2 linked regions of the Homo sapiens genome follow. The protein of the gene in region 1 interacts with the protein of each later gene in a pairwise test. Each region holds a gene or a part of one and is shown in the gene's direction. Other genes may lie near its edges.

The links. The genes of interacting proteins can lie anywhere in the genome.
Region 2: the proteins of SPANXN3 (region 1) and FAM228A interact in binary tests that used the Homo sapiens proteins (3 or more experiments, as listed by UniProt).

The regions. Positions count from the first base shown.
Region 1 is NC_000023.11:143,508,218-143,514,487, reverse strand, and holds the end of SPANXN3 (sperm protein associated with the nucleus on the X chromosome N3), read left to right. Parts: intron 1-5,325; coding exon 5,326-5,673; 3' UTR 5,674-5,753; downstream 5,754-6,270.
Region 2 is NC_000002.12:24,178,053-24,185,081, forward strand, and holds part of FAM228A (protein FAM228A), read left to right. Parts: intron 1-5,232; coding exon 5,233-5,320; intron 5,321-5,442; coding exon 5,443-5,593; intron 5,594-7,029.

The DNA.
Region 1 (6,270 bases):
TGATAGCTTCCTGAGGGGAAGTTTGAGTGCAAAGGGAACATGCCTTAGTAATATATTTCAGATTGGCAGCCATGGCAGAAGAATGTATATAATTTTCTAAAAGCTGGAGTAGGGGCAGTAAGCAGCATGGAAATGGTTGTGCACATATGAAAGTACAGAAGGTTTTTTAAACTTGGACAAGACACTTTATCACTGAGATCAAACAATTTTTTCCTGAATGGCACCAGCCCGGGCAAGTGGGGTTCATTCCTTCTGGGTATATACAGGAAAAAATGAGCAATAACGATGGGGTTTTAAGGGCTGCCTGCCAGGCTGCCAAATTTGTTGAAAGGTTTCTCTCGGTTATGGCATCTTTAGACTTTCGGCACCCCTTGCAATGGATAATGGTGGCCTTTGGTGGTAGTTTATCCACCCCCAGCAGCTTATGTATAAGTTTGCCATTTCTTATGGGAGTTCCTTTTGTAGTTAGGAAACCCTGTTCCTGCCAGATGAAGGCATGAGACTGTAGGACATGGTATGCATATTTGGAATGGGTGTAAATGTTGACCCTCTTTCCCTTTGCTAGGGTGAGGGCCCTGGTTAGGGCAACTAGCTTAGGCTGTTGAGAGGTAGCATGGGGTGGCAGAGCATTGGATTCTAGGAGTTTATTTTCAGCAATGATGGAATAGCCAGCTGCTGGACATGGCTCCCTAAAAGAGCTTCCATTAACTAACCGTGTATGTGTTCCCTGCAAAGGGGCATGTGAAATGTGTTGGAAGGAGGAGGAGAGGGAGTCTAAGAGGTCCAGACAGGAGTGAGAGAGCCTAGAATCGGAAGTGTTTACAGGGAGGAGGGTGGCTGGGTTGAGAGTTTTATATCTCTGGAAGGGGATTAGAGGGCTACCTAGGAATAAGGCATGTACCTGTTATAAGCAGGATGGTAGGAGGGATAGAAGGGATTGATGGTTTATGAGGTCCTGTAGGTAATGGGAAGATGCAATAGTAATGTGTTGGTAAAGAGGGAGTTTCCGTGCCTCTAAGGCCAGCGATGTGGCCACAGCCAAGATTTTTAGTCAGAGTGACCAGCCTTGGTCACACAAAACAACAGAGTCCAGTTGTTTTGAGAGAAGTGCAGTGGCTTGTGTGGCGTTGCCGTATGTTTGGCAGAGTAGTCCAAGGGCAAGGCCCTGGTCAGAATGTACATACAAAGTAACGGGCTTGGTGAGGTTGGGCAGTCCCTGTGCCAGGGCCATTAAAAGGGCATTTTTAAGTTTTTAAGTGGGAGTTGATGGGGCAAGCTGGGTTTAGGGGTTTTAGGATGGGCCCATGTGAGGCCCTGTTTAGTGGCTTGGCCAGCAAGTCAAAATTGGGAACTGACAGCCAGAAGTAACCCACAAGGCCCGAGAAGGAGAGAAGGTACTTTTTTGTGTGAGGAAAGGGCATGTCCCAAATTAGCTCCTTTCATTGGGTTGGGATGGCTCGAGAATTAGGGGTTAGGACAAACCCAAGGTAAGTAACTTTGGTTTGGGCTACCTGAAATATTGTGGGCTAGGCCCAAACTTTGGTTTGGGCTACCTGAGATTTCCTCTATTATGGAGGAAGTTTAAAACCTAAGTGGTGTGTTGGATGGACAGGTTAAGGAAGGGGCTACAGAGAAGGAGTTTGACATGTTGCAGGAGGGTGCTAGCAGCAAGGGAAAGTTCACCTAGGTCCTTGATGAGGGCAAGTCTGAATAGGTGGGGGCTATCCTGGAACCCCTGTAAGAGTACAGTCCACTCTAGTTGGGTGCACATGTGAGTATTAGGACTTGACCAAGTTAAAGCAAAAAGACTTCTGTAAGCCGGATTTAAGGGAATGGTGAAATAGGCATCTTTCAGTTCCAATACAGAGGAGTGTGTAGTAGATTTAGGAATATGGGAGAGTAGAGCATATTGGTTGAGGACCACTAGATGTATTGGTACCACTGCCTGGTCAACAACTTGGAGATCCTGGACAAAGGGGTAAGTCCCGTCTGTCTTTTGGAAAGCCAGAATAGGGGTGTTCTGGGGAGAGTTAACAGGCTTGAGAATATGAGCTTGTTAAAGTTTACAAATAATAGGTTTGAGGCCCCTAAGCACGGCTGGATTAAGGGGATATTGAGACTGAAAAAAGAAAATGGAGGAGTTTTGAAAGGTTATTTTAACTGGGATGTGATGTGTGGCTATTGTGGGTTTAGAAACATTCCAAGCTTTAGAATTAACAGAAGGTAACAGGGTGGATAATGAGGATGAGTAGGGGGAGAGGGAAGCGTTTGGGTGTCGGAGTAAAATAAAAGGGGTAGAATTGTAGGAGCCGCATTGCATGGAGGCCTGGAATTTACTTAATATGTCCCACCCCAAGATAGGGGTAGGGGACTGAGGGATAACCAGGAAACAGTGGGTGAAGGGGGCTGTTGAATAGGTTGCATAATAAAGGACGAGTCTGTGCCTAGAGGGGATTTTATTGATTCTCACAATAGAGATCGAAGAACAGAAAAAGGGTCTAGAATATTCTGGTAAAACCGAGTAACTAGTTGTCGTATTGAGTATCCAATAGGAAAGACATGGACTTACTAGAGACTGACAGAATTACCCTGGGTTCCGAGGTGGTGATGGCAGTAGGGGTGGTGGACTCTAGGCCCCACCTGTCTTCAGGTACAGGTGGTGAAGCTAGATGAAGAGTTTCACTGAGCACAGTCTGACTTCCAGTGTTGCTTGATATCACAGATGGGGCAAGGCTTCCAGAGTGTCACGGGATTAGGCCAGGCTTTTGCTCAGTGTCCCTGTTGGATGCACTTATAACAGGCTCCTGGAGTTGACTGTTGCCAAGTTGAGGAATTCTGTATGCCTTGGGAACCCTGTTGAGTGGCAGCTATCAGCATTTGATATTTAGCCTGGCCCTTTTTTAGGTTTGGGTTTTTTAGTTCTTCCTCTCTAATCTTATAGACCTTAAAGGCCACTTTGATTAAGTCTCTTTGGAGGTTTGAGGGCCATCCTCCACTTTTTAAAGTTTTTTTTCAAATGTCTGGGGCTGACTGGGAGATAAAGTGTAAATGGAGGTAGATTTTGCCCTTAATGGTATTAGGGCTTAAGGTGGCATATTTAGTTGTGACCTTTGAAAAGGCGGGAGAGGAAAAGAGCAGGGGCGACTTTATTTATGCCAGCTAGAAGGCATGATATCATATGGCCTGGTTTCTGCCTGTCTACAGAAGTTGCCTGATAATTCCGATTGAGGTCAGTTCTGGGGACAGCTAGGGTCCCTACTGGGTTATGAGCAGCATCTTGTTGGTGGAGGGTGTTCTCATGGACCTGGGCACCCGTAAATATGTGTTCCCTGTCCTCCAGGGTGAGGGTAGAGGAGAGGATGACATATATGTCATGCCAGGTAAGGTCATAAGATTTAGGGAAGTACAGACATTCCTTGAGGAAGGAGGTAGGATCCATTGAAAAGGAGCAAAGTCTCTTTTCAGTATGGGAGAAGTCAGCTAGGGAACTTGAATTCAGATTATGCCTTCAGTCCTTGCAACCTCCTGCAAGGGAAAGACTTTGGAAGGCCTTTGGGCATGTGTCTGGTTTTCGGCAAAAGAGCGTTGGGCGTGAGACCTGGTTTGAGGTGGAGAAGGAAGGGGGATGGAGGGTGACAGTAAGGGGGTGGAGGAGCCGGATCCGAAGGAGAAGGTGGAGGGAATGGGAGAGGGCAGGAGCCAGACGAAGGGGTTTGTTGGCCAGGTTGAAATTCAGAGGAGGAAGGCTTGTCCCGAGGAGGAGGCATTTTGGGGGGTTTCTCCTTGAGGAGGAAGATTTGAAAAGGTGAACAAGATTGGCAGGAGAGTGAGTGAGGCATGAGCGGAGATAAGCAAAGCACTTCAGATCATTTACCATTGTGTTGGAGAAAGATTTTTAGATGATGTTGAATTTGAAAGTTGAATGTTTTGTTTTTTAGAAGAGGGGAGTGAATACTCTGGATGGGAGTGAATACTCTGGGGAAAGTGAGTACCCCAGAAGGGAGTGAATACCCCAGAGGGGAGTGAGTTCTCCAGAGGGAAGTGAATACCCCAGAGGAAAGTGAGTACTGGATTCCACCTGGGAGAAGGGACCTGGAGAGTTGGGACAGCCCCATAGCTATTCATGCTCCCCAGAGGACGGAGCGGCCAGAATGGCAAGTGTTCTGAGGCTGTCCCCTGAGAAGGGAGGCTGCAGTCACCTGGTGACTGGGGAGACCTCTCACCCAGCACTGGAATTTTTTTGGAGAACAAGCAGAAATAGAAAGGAATCCAGAAAGGAAGAATAGGGAGACTCACCCACGAATTGAAGCCCAGTGTTGGATGTGATGTCCAGCAATGGGGGTGATCCTGGTTGCAGCTGCTTGGGAAGGGGAAGGAAGGAAAAATAAGATGGAGAGTTTGATCAATATCTGGAGGTTAGTCCAGGGCTGGAGAAGATGAGAGAATAGGGGAAACAGGACTGGGAACAGACAGTCCACTCAGGATCTGGAAGTAGGCCCCGGTCTAGTTTGTGCTGCTTGCTGCTTTCTGCTTTCCAGGTTGCAAGAGAAAACTTACCCATTAGAACCCAATCACCGTCCTGGGTTTTGGCACCAAAGTGTTAGGTTTTGAAGGGAAGATGAGGGTGAAAGAAAGACAGACAGAGAGGGTGCATCTCAAACAACAACACAGGAATATTGCAGACACCTGTGGAAGTGGGGGACCAGCTTAATGCCAGAGCCCACTGCCGCTTATAGCCTGGGGTACTTACAGGTATGGGTGGGAGGGAGCTGGGCAGTATGGCTTGCTGCCCAGGAGGATATTGATAAGATGTTCTTATGATCAGGTGGTTTGGCCCTTTTTCCAGTGGAATATCATTGTGGTGTTCCTTTGCAGCTGCCTGGAAAGGGGAATGAAGGAAAAATAAGATGGAGAGTTTAATCAATATCTGGAGGTTAGCCCAGGGCTGGAGAAGATGAAAGAATAAGGGGAACAGGACTTATGATAGGGATGTTTCTTTAGTTGAGCCTTTGTCCACCTTGTGGTCAGGTGGTTAGGCAGGATGTTGCTCATGGCCTGAACCCCCATGGAATGTTTCACTTTGACCAAGGTCTGCAACATAGCAAAAACTTACAAAATCATGCAGTTTGGACTAACAGGTGACTCTACCCATGCTCCTCTTCTTCTTCTGCATAGATACCTACCCTATGATTTCACCTTGTTCTTCTCTGGCACACACCCCTTCCTCCACCTGCATTCCTTCTCATAAAGCCCCCCTTGCTATCTAGTCTCTATCCTATTCACCCAAAATAATGTCTTTCTGGCCTCTCCCTATTTTCTTACCAGATGCAAGAGGTACCAAACAGAGTCTTAGCCCCCGAACAGAGTTTGAAGAACACAAAAACATCAGAATATCCAATAATATTTGTGTATTACCTCAGGAAGGGTAAGAAAATAAATTCAAATCAACTGGAGAATGAACAGTCCCAAGAGAACTCCATCAATCCAATCCAAAAGGAGGAGGACGAAGGCGTAGACTTATCTGAAGGATCTTCAAATGAGGATGAAGACCTAGGCCCATGTGAAGGACCTTCAAAGGAGGACAAAGATCTAGACTCATCTGAAGGATCCTCACAGGAGGATGAAGACCTAGGCTTATCTGAAGGATCTTCACAGGACAGTGGGGAGGATTAGTCACACATGGAGAAACCAAATTGGACAAATCATCACCACTGATGGCGATGATTACAATAAAATCAAGTTTAAGGAGCTGATGACTGTGTTTATCTCTGCCTGTTGTCTGGTGTGGGGTGGGGAAGGGAAGGGAAGAGGTAGGCATTTGAGAAGGGAGGGATATGAGGTCCTGTAGGTTGGGAGACGGACCCACAGGTTGACAGTTAGCCAGACATTGCAAATAAGGACTGGCGGAGGACTGATTCCTCAGACAAATTTTCTTCTTAAAATTTTGTCTTACAGGAGAGGAAGAAAAGGACATGGTGTTTCTTGGAGCATGTGATTGTGTAGAAGGGTGTACAAAAAGATCTGTATTCGCTGGGCATGGTGGCTCATGCCTCTAATCCCAGCACTTTGGGAGGCTGAGACTGGCAGTCACCTGAGGTCAGGAGTTTGAGACCAGCATGGGCCAACATGGTGAACCCCTGTCTCTACTAAAAAATATATAAAAATTAGCCAGGCATGGTGTCAGGCACCTGTAATCCCAGCTACTTGAAGGCCAAGGCAGGAGAATCGCTTGAACCCAGGAGGTGGAAGTTGCAGTGAGCCGAGATCACG
Region 2 (7,029 bases), on another chromosome or scaffold:
TCACTAAAAGGTCCCTGATCCCACTTGGATCTGTCCTGAAGGGATCTGAGAAGTTGTTCCAATTGCTCCTTCTCTTCGTCCTGGTACCGAATAGAAATTCTTTCCTACTCACACTTGCCTCTTTCTCATATGTTCCCACATTGCAGTAAAACCACTAGAAACAAAATAAGCTTTTAAGGGTTATGACCAATCAGTAACTGATAGTCACTACGAAATTAGCTTAAGGGGCATTTAATTTCAATGAGAGAGACGGAGTTATAATAATACTTTGGGAGGCTGAAGCAAGAGTATTGCTTGAAACCAGGAGTTTGAGAGTTTGAGACCAGCCTGGGCAACATAGTGAGGCCCTGTCACTACAAAAAAATTAAAAAATTAGCCAGACATGGTGGCACACGCCTGTAGTCCCAGCTACTCAGGAGGCTGAGGCAGGAGGATTGCTTGAGCTCAGGAGGTTGGGGCTGTAGTGAACTGTGATCATGCCACTATACTCCAGCCTGGGTGACAGAGTGAGACCCTGTCTTTTAAACAAAAAAGAATAAAACTTTGACATTTGAATTGTGATTTACAATGTGTAAAGAAAGTGCACATAAATTCCCATTTAAGCATCCAAAGAGGTAGATGGGATTACCTCTCTTTCACAGGCCAGAGAGAGGTGTCAAAGTCTAGTGCGCTTTCTACTCTACCAGTTTTGTCCCAGACTTTCCTGATGGTGAAGGCTAGACACAGAGTGGGTGACCAGGGAATGCTTGGAAATCCTGAAAAAGAAACAAGAGTTTCATGAGTTAGGAATAGCTTAATCTGATTCATGAGTTAGATGTGGTTAAATCTGAAGGCACAGTTATGGTTTAGAAGTTTATATGAGTTCTTCTGCTCTGTGTTCCCAGCTTCTCTTACTGCACTTTATTCTGTGCTTCAGTTATCTTATACTGGGACTTTGCAACCCGAATGTGGCTGAGAGCTTAGTAGAGAGAACAAATTTTTTTTTCCCCCTTACTCGAATGATAGTAAATGAAACATTTCTTTATAATTTATTTTCCTTTTTTGTATCACTTCACTAGAGATTGGATATGTATTTTCAGCATGTGGATACTTTTAAGGAAAGAAGAAAAGAGATGTTACATAAAAAATGGGTTGAAAATGTTGCAGAGCCTCTTCAGCAGAGAATTATGGAAAAAGTAATTTCATATAAAGAGCTTAAAATGAAACGAGAATGTTGAATATTATTTACAGCACAGACATAAAATGGTACTGATGTTTTATTTTTCAAATAGAGTATAATTTGAAGAGTTGGTCTAACAATTTCACTGGTTATACAAATAGTTTCCAGCTTATTTTTATATTTAAGATGAGTTCATTGAATTGTAACACACGTATTGCATTCTTAAGCCTGAGGTTGGAGGGGATAGGAGTGTTGATTTGGAACTAGATTTATCAGGAATGATTTTTATGTAGACGTTAATGGAGTTACTGTGGCTTAAACCATAAGGGCATTTACTTCACAAGAAATTAAGAGGTAGGTGGTCTCGTGGTGGGTTCTGACAGCATAACAATGTCAGGTTTTTTCCTATTCTGTTCTGCTATCCTTAGTATTTTCAGTTTATCCCCATCATTCTCACATTTGCCTGATGGTTGCTTATAGCTCCAGACATTAGGTCTTCATTCAGGGCAGGAGGAAGGGGTAAGGAATGGTGCCAGGGGCCTCTTCTCTTACCCTACTCCTTTGCAGGAAGCAAAAAGAGTCCCCAGAGGCCCCTAGCCAACTTTCCCTTAGGTCTCATTGGCCAGGACTGGGTCATGAAGCAAGTCCTAGCCATAAGCAGGGCCTGGAAAGCCACTGTGGCTTTCTCATCTCTCTAGTAGGAAGTGGGCAGAGGAGAATGGTATTGCATGGCTGACTTAGCCAACCAGTAGGTATTAGGACTAACAGTTTCTATACTCTGTTCTACAGTTTGGCTTTACAAAAATTTGGTTTCTTAATTTAGAGATTTTTTTTTATTTTGAGGTCAGCTCTCAGAATTTGGGTCTCTCTATTTGCAGTATCAAATACAAATCTGTTAGCTTTAGGTGTGCACTACTGGATCTTTCTTACCCCCACATATCTAGTAGATATCTAGAGTAGTGGCTGGGTGCAGTGGGTCACCCCTGTAATCCCAGCACTTTGGGAGGCTGAGGTGGATGGATTGCTTGAGTCCAGGAGTTCAAGACCAGCCTGGGCAACATGGCAAAAACCCGTCTGTACAAAAAAAAAAAAAGCCCAGGTGTGGTTCTGTGCACTTGTAGTCCCAGCTACTTGGGAGGTTGAGGTGGGAGGATCACTTGAGCCTGGGAGGCGGAGGTTGCAGTGAGCCATGATCGTGTCACTGCAGTCCATCCTGAGTGACAGTGAGACCCTAGAGTAGGTTAGCTGAAATATTAGAACATTTAAGTATATTTACTGAGCACAATTTCTGAATATTTACCTTAAATACTTTTTCCTACACACTCTTAAGGGGCAGAGCTCAAGATTGAATCCAGATCTCCAAAGTGCAAAGTCTTATATTTGTGTCCAGAAATGTGATTTCATGGGTATAGGGAGGAAGATCTTAGAAATGGCATGTGTTGAAGTCCAAGTAATTTTAAATGTCAGTAAAGTCGTTGTGAATCAACCATATGAGCTGGATTCCAAGAAAACATACATCTCTCAGGCAAGAGAGGCTGTGCTTAGAGTGGGAAGCATCAGAGTCTTGGTCTATCCTGTCCTTAACCTGTCATTCCTGATGTCACACTGTTGAAGGGACCCTCATCAGTTGCAAAACCTTTAGAAAAGAGTTGAGTCTTGACACCACTTTATAGGAAGAAAACTGGAAAGAGGTGGGGTATTTGGCCCAAGGAAATGACACGAGGGGGAATGAACCTTTTAAGTATTTTAAAGGCCGACATTAGCCGATGAATTAGATGTGTAGAACTAGTGTCTGTACCTGCAAGTTACAAGGCAGATTTAAACTCAACCTAAGGACGGACTTTCTTGAGGTTAAAATTACCAAAAAAAGTACCTGCCTCATGGAGCAGAAAGTTCTGAAAGGCCCATGGATGACTTTAGACTAAAGCTAGATGATTACTTCTCCCAGAAGGTGGTGGAGTCTCATTGCAGTCCAAACTACTTCAGCAGTTTCTTCCAACCCTTTGAAGCTATGCTTTTATATAAAAATGAAATGCAGTATTTGGCTTTTATAATATGAATCTTGCAAAACAGTTTGTATCTAGTGATTTTTCCCTTAAGTATATTTTATATCTGAAGGAAATTATATGTGAAGACCATTATAATCCTGAAGTATACAATCCCTTTTTAAATTTTTTTAAATTTTTCTTTGAGACAGAGTTTCGCTCTTGTTGCCCAAGCTGGAGTACAATGGTGTGATCTTGGCTTACTGCAACTTCTGCCTCCGGGGTTCAAGCAGTTCTCCTGCCTTAGCCTGCCAGGTAGCTGGGATTACAGGCATGTGCCACCATGCCTGGCTAATTGTTTGTATTTTTAGTAGAGATGGGGTTTCGCCATGTTGGTCAGGCTGGTCTTGAGCTCCTGACCTCAGGTGATTTACCTGCCTTGGCTTCCCAAAGTGCTGGGATCACAGGTGTGAGCCACTGTGCCCGGCCTACGATCCTTTTATATGAAGAAAAAGAAACCAAATTATGGAAAGGTAGAGCAGGTTTCTTTGGTTTTTTATTCTTAGGAGCTCTGGAGTGGGGGAAAACCTAGTCATTTTAGAAGTCTTGTAGTTATTGTCTATTTATTAAAAAAAAATCTACAAAAGCATTTCCTTTGAGTTTTAGAATAGGAACTCAAAGTAATTTAGACTCCTGTGGAATTTACACTGTGCACAAGGCATGGATACGTGTGATCATTTGTTCATTCATTTACTCACATTCAGCAAACTTGAAGCACAAGAAGGAGAGAGAGAGGTGTGGACAGCTTGTGCAGTGGAGCGTGGCGAGTGTCACAGAAGTCAGCACAGGGATTATGGGACGTGGGAGGGAACACTCCTTTCTACTGGAGATACAGGAAGGATGTCAGCACAGGCTGCCCGGGAGAGCTAATACTTGAGGTTATAATGAGTCTTCAGATTTTTAAACTGCCAATACAGGAGTTAAAATGGAGAAATGTAGGTTTCAGTTTTTCGCTCCCATGCAGCAGAAGTAGCCACCTGATATGACTGTTAATTTTTTAAAAAATATGTATGGCTCTGAAGATGGAAGTGGTTTCTTTTGCTTCTCCCAGAAAACCAAGCCAGGTCAGTCATATGAAGATGAACAGATTCTTCTGGTTCTGGGTAGAATGTCAGCATCTGGGGTGCTGGAGGCAGTACATATTATGTTGCCTAGTTTATTCAGTAATTGTTTACCTAGCACTTCAGTCCAGCACTGGGATGAGTGCTGTGGGGGAAATGGAGGGGAAAAATAGTCCCTCTGTCTAAGGCTTATCAGGAGCGGGAAGAAAAAATACTTCTGTATGTCCCTACCCTTTGACACAAACTCATAGCTCTGGTCACCTGACCCTCTGTTCTCACAGGCCCTTACGGACCAGTTGTCAGCTTCCCTAGGAGGCATGCGTCCTCCCAGGCTAAGTTAGCACTGCCCCTGCTCCTACAGGATCCTGAGAGGGCCCCTCTCAGGACTGGATTGTCACTGGATGACTAGGCTGTCTAGACCAGGAGATCCTTGAAGACAGGATCTAGCCTGGATGTGGCACACAATGGCAACACAAATATTTACTGGCTGATGCAATGACACAGTAGAGCGCTTAACAGAAGTGCGTCTCTTCTATCTGGGCGGCCCTCCCTCCCTCAGTTCAGCCATTTAAGGCTCTGTACGACATCCTCATCTGAGGTGTAGATTGGCACATTCTGGGGCCTTTCTTCTCAGCTGCTTTGGTATACAGTAAGGGCATACTTGAATGTTTAGGTCAGATTTTATTTATTTAAATTTCAACTTTTAGATTCGGGGGTACACATACAGGTTTGTTACACGGGTATATTGGGGTACGAGGTTGGGGTGCTGAGGTTGGGGTGCAATTGAATCTGTCACCCTGGTAGTAAGCAGAGTCCCGAATAGGTCGTTTTTCAACCCTCGCCCCCTCCTGCCCTTCCCACTCTTGTAGTCCTCAGGGTCTATTGTTCCCATCTTTATGTGGGACACATTTTAAAAGCTTAATACAGACTGCACTCTGGTACTCAAAGAGTCTCATTTCTCTTGTAGGTTACAGTCCCACCATTTGTTGATCCTCTGTTTCAAAGACAGCAAGAGGTGGATGAAGAGAGGAGAACTGGTCTTCAGTGTGAGACAGGTGCTTTGTGATCACTGGGCCTCATTTTTTTGAGACTGCTAATTGTCCAGTGATTTCTCACTCCTTCAAGAGCAACTGGAGTTCTTGAAGAGTGTTGATTTCGATTTTTTATCTTCCTGTAGGAAAACGACATTCCATAAAAGAACTTGAAGAAATAGAGAAGGCCAGGCTGCATGCCAGCTCGCCCTACTTCACTTTCACTTCACACTGTGTGATTCCAAAAGAGTGGCATAAAGCCTCTGCAAGAGCCAGGAGTAAAACTTACAAATACAGGTACAGATGAGCAGAACAAACAAATATTTGTTTAACTTGCAACTTACTTTATTTCCTACTGAAGCTCTTGTAACTAGTCACACTTTTGTCTTTTAGTAGTTTATAGTTTTATTATTATTATCATCACCTTTGTATTATGAAATATATGTAGAGGACAGAATAAAACATAAACAGCTTACCGAGTCCCTGAGTCAGTCCTGTGGAATCACCAGCCATTTCAAGAAAGGGAGCCTGCCCCCTCCCGAGACAGTCTTCTCCCTGCCCCAGAGCTCCCTTCACTTTATAAGTGTTCACCTCCTTGCTCTCCCTGTGGTGTTATCAACTAACTTTGTATCCTTAAACAATATAGTTTATCTTGCGTATTTTTGAATTTCATATAAACAGAACCTGAAAGCATTTATTCTTTTATGACTGACTCTTTAAAAAACATCTTTATTAAGATATAGTTTACAGGCCGGGCACGGTGGCTCACACCTGTAATCCCAGCACTTTGGGAGGCCGAGGCAGGTGGACCACCTGAGGTCAGGAGTTTGAGACTAGCCTGGCCAACATGGTGAAACTCCATCTCTACTAAAAATACAAAAATTAGCTGGGCATCATGGCAGATGCCTATAATCCCAGCTACTCGGGAGACTGAGGCAGGAGAATCGCTTGAACTCGGGAAGCAGAAGTTGCAGTGAGTCGAGATCATGCCACTGCACTCCAGCCTGGGCAACAGAGTGAGACACTGTCAAAAAAAAAAAAAAAAAGATACAGCTTACATACCATAAAATTCATCTGTTGAGGGTTTGTACATGTACAGTTCATTGTGTGACTGCTTTTGCTCACCATTATGTTTTTCAGATTCCTTTCTGTTGTTGCATATAGCTCCAGTGTATTAACTTCTGTTTTCTGATTATATTCCATTATATTTGACTATGCCATCATTTAAGCAATCCACTGTTGTGGACATTTGGGTTGTTTCCATATTTTGGCTATTATGAACAATCCAGTTTGGTATTTTCGTTTCCACAATCCACATTTGTTATTTATTTATTTATTTATTTTTGAGTCTGAGTCTCGCTCTGTCGTCCAGGCTGGAATGCAGTGGTGCAATCTCTTAATTTTGATATAGTCAAATATTTATAACTAGTGCTTTTTATACATTATTTTAAGATGTCTTTTCCAAAAGCTGTATGGCCTTTTTTTTTTTTTTTGAGATGGAGTCTCATTCTATCGTCAGGCTGGAGTACAGTGGCACAATCTTGGCTCACTGCAACCTCTGCCTCCCGGGTTCAAGTGATTCTCCTGCCTCAGCCTCCTGAGTAGCTGGGACTACAGGTGTGCGCCACCACACCCAGCTGATTTTTGTATCTTTAGTAGAGATGGCGTTTCACCATGTTGGCCAGGATGGTCTTGATCTCTTGACCTCAGGTGATCCACCTGCCTTGGCCTCC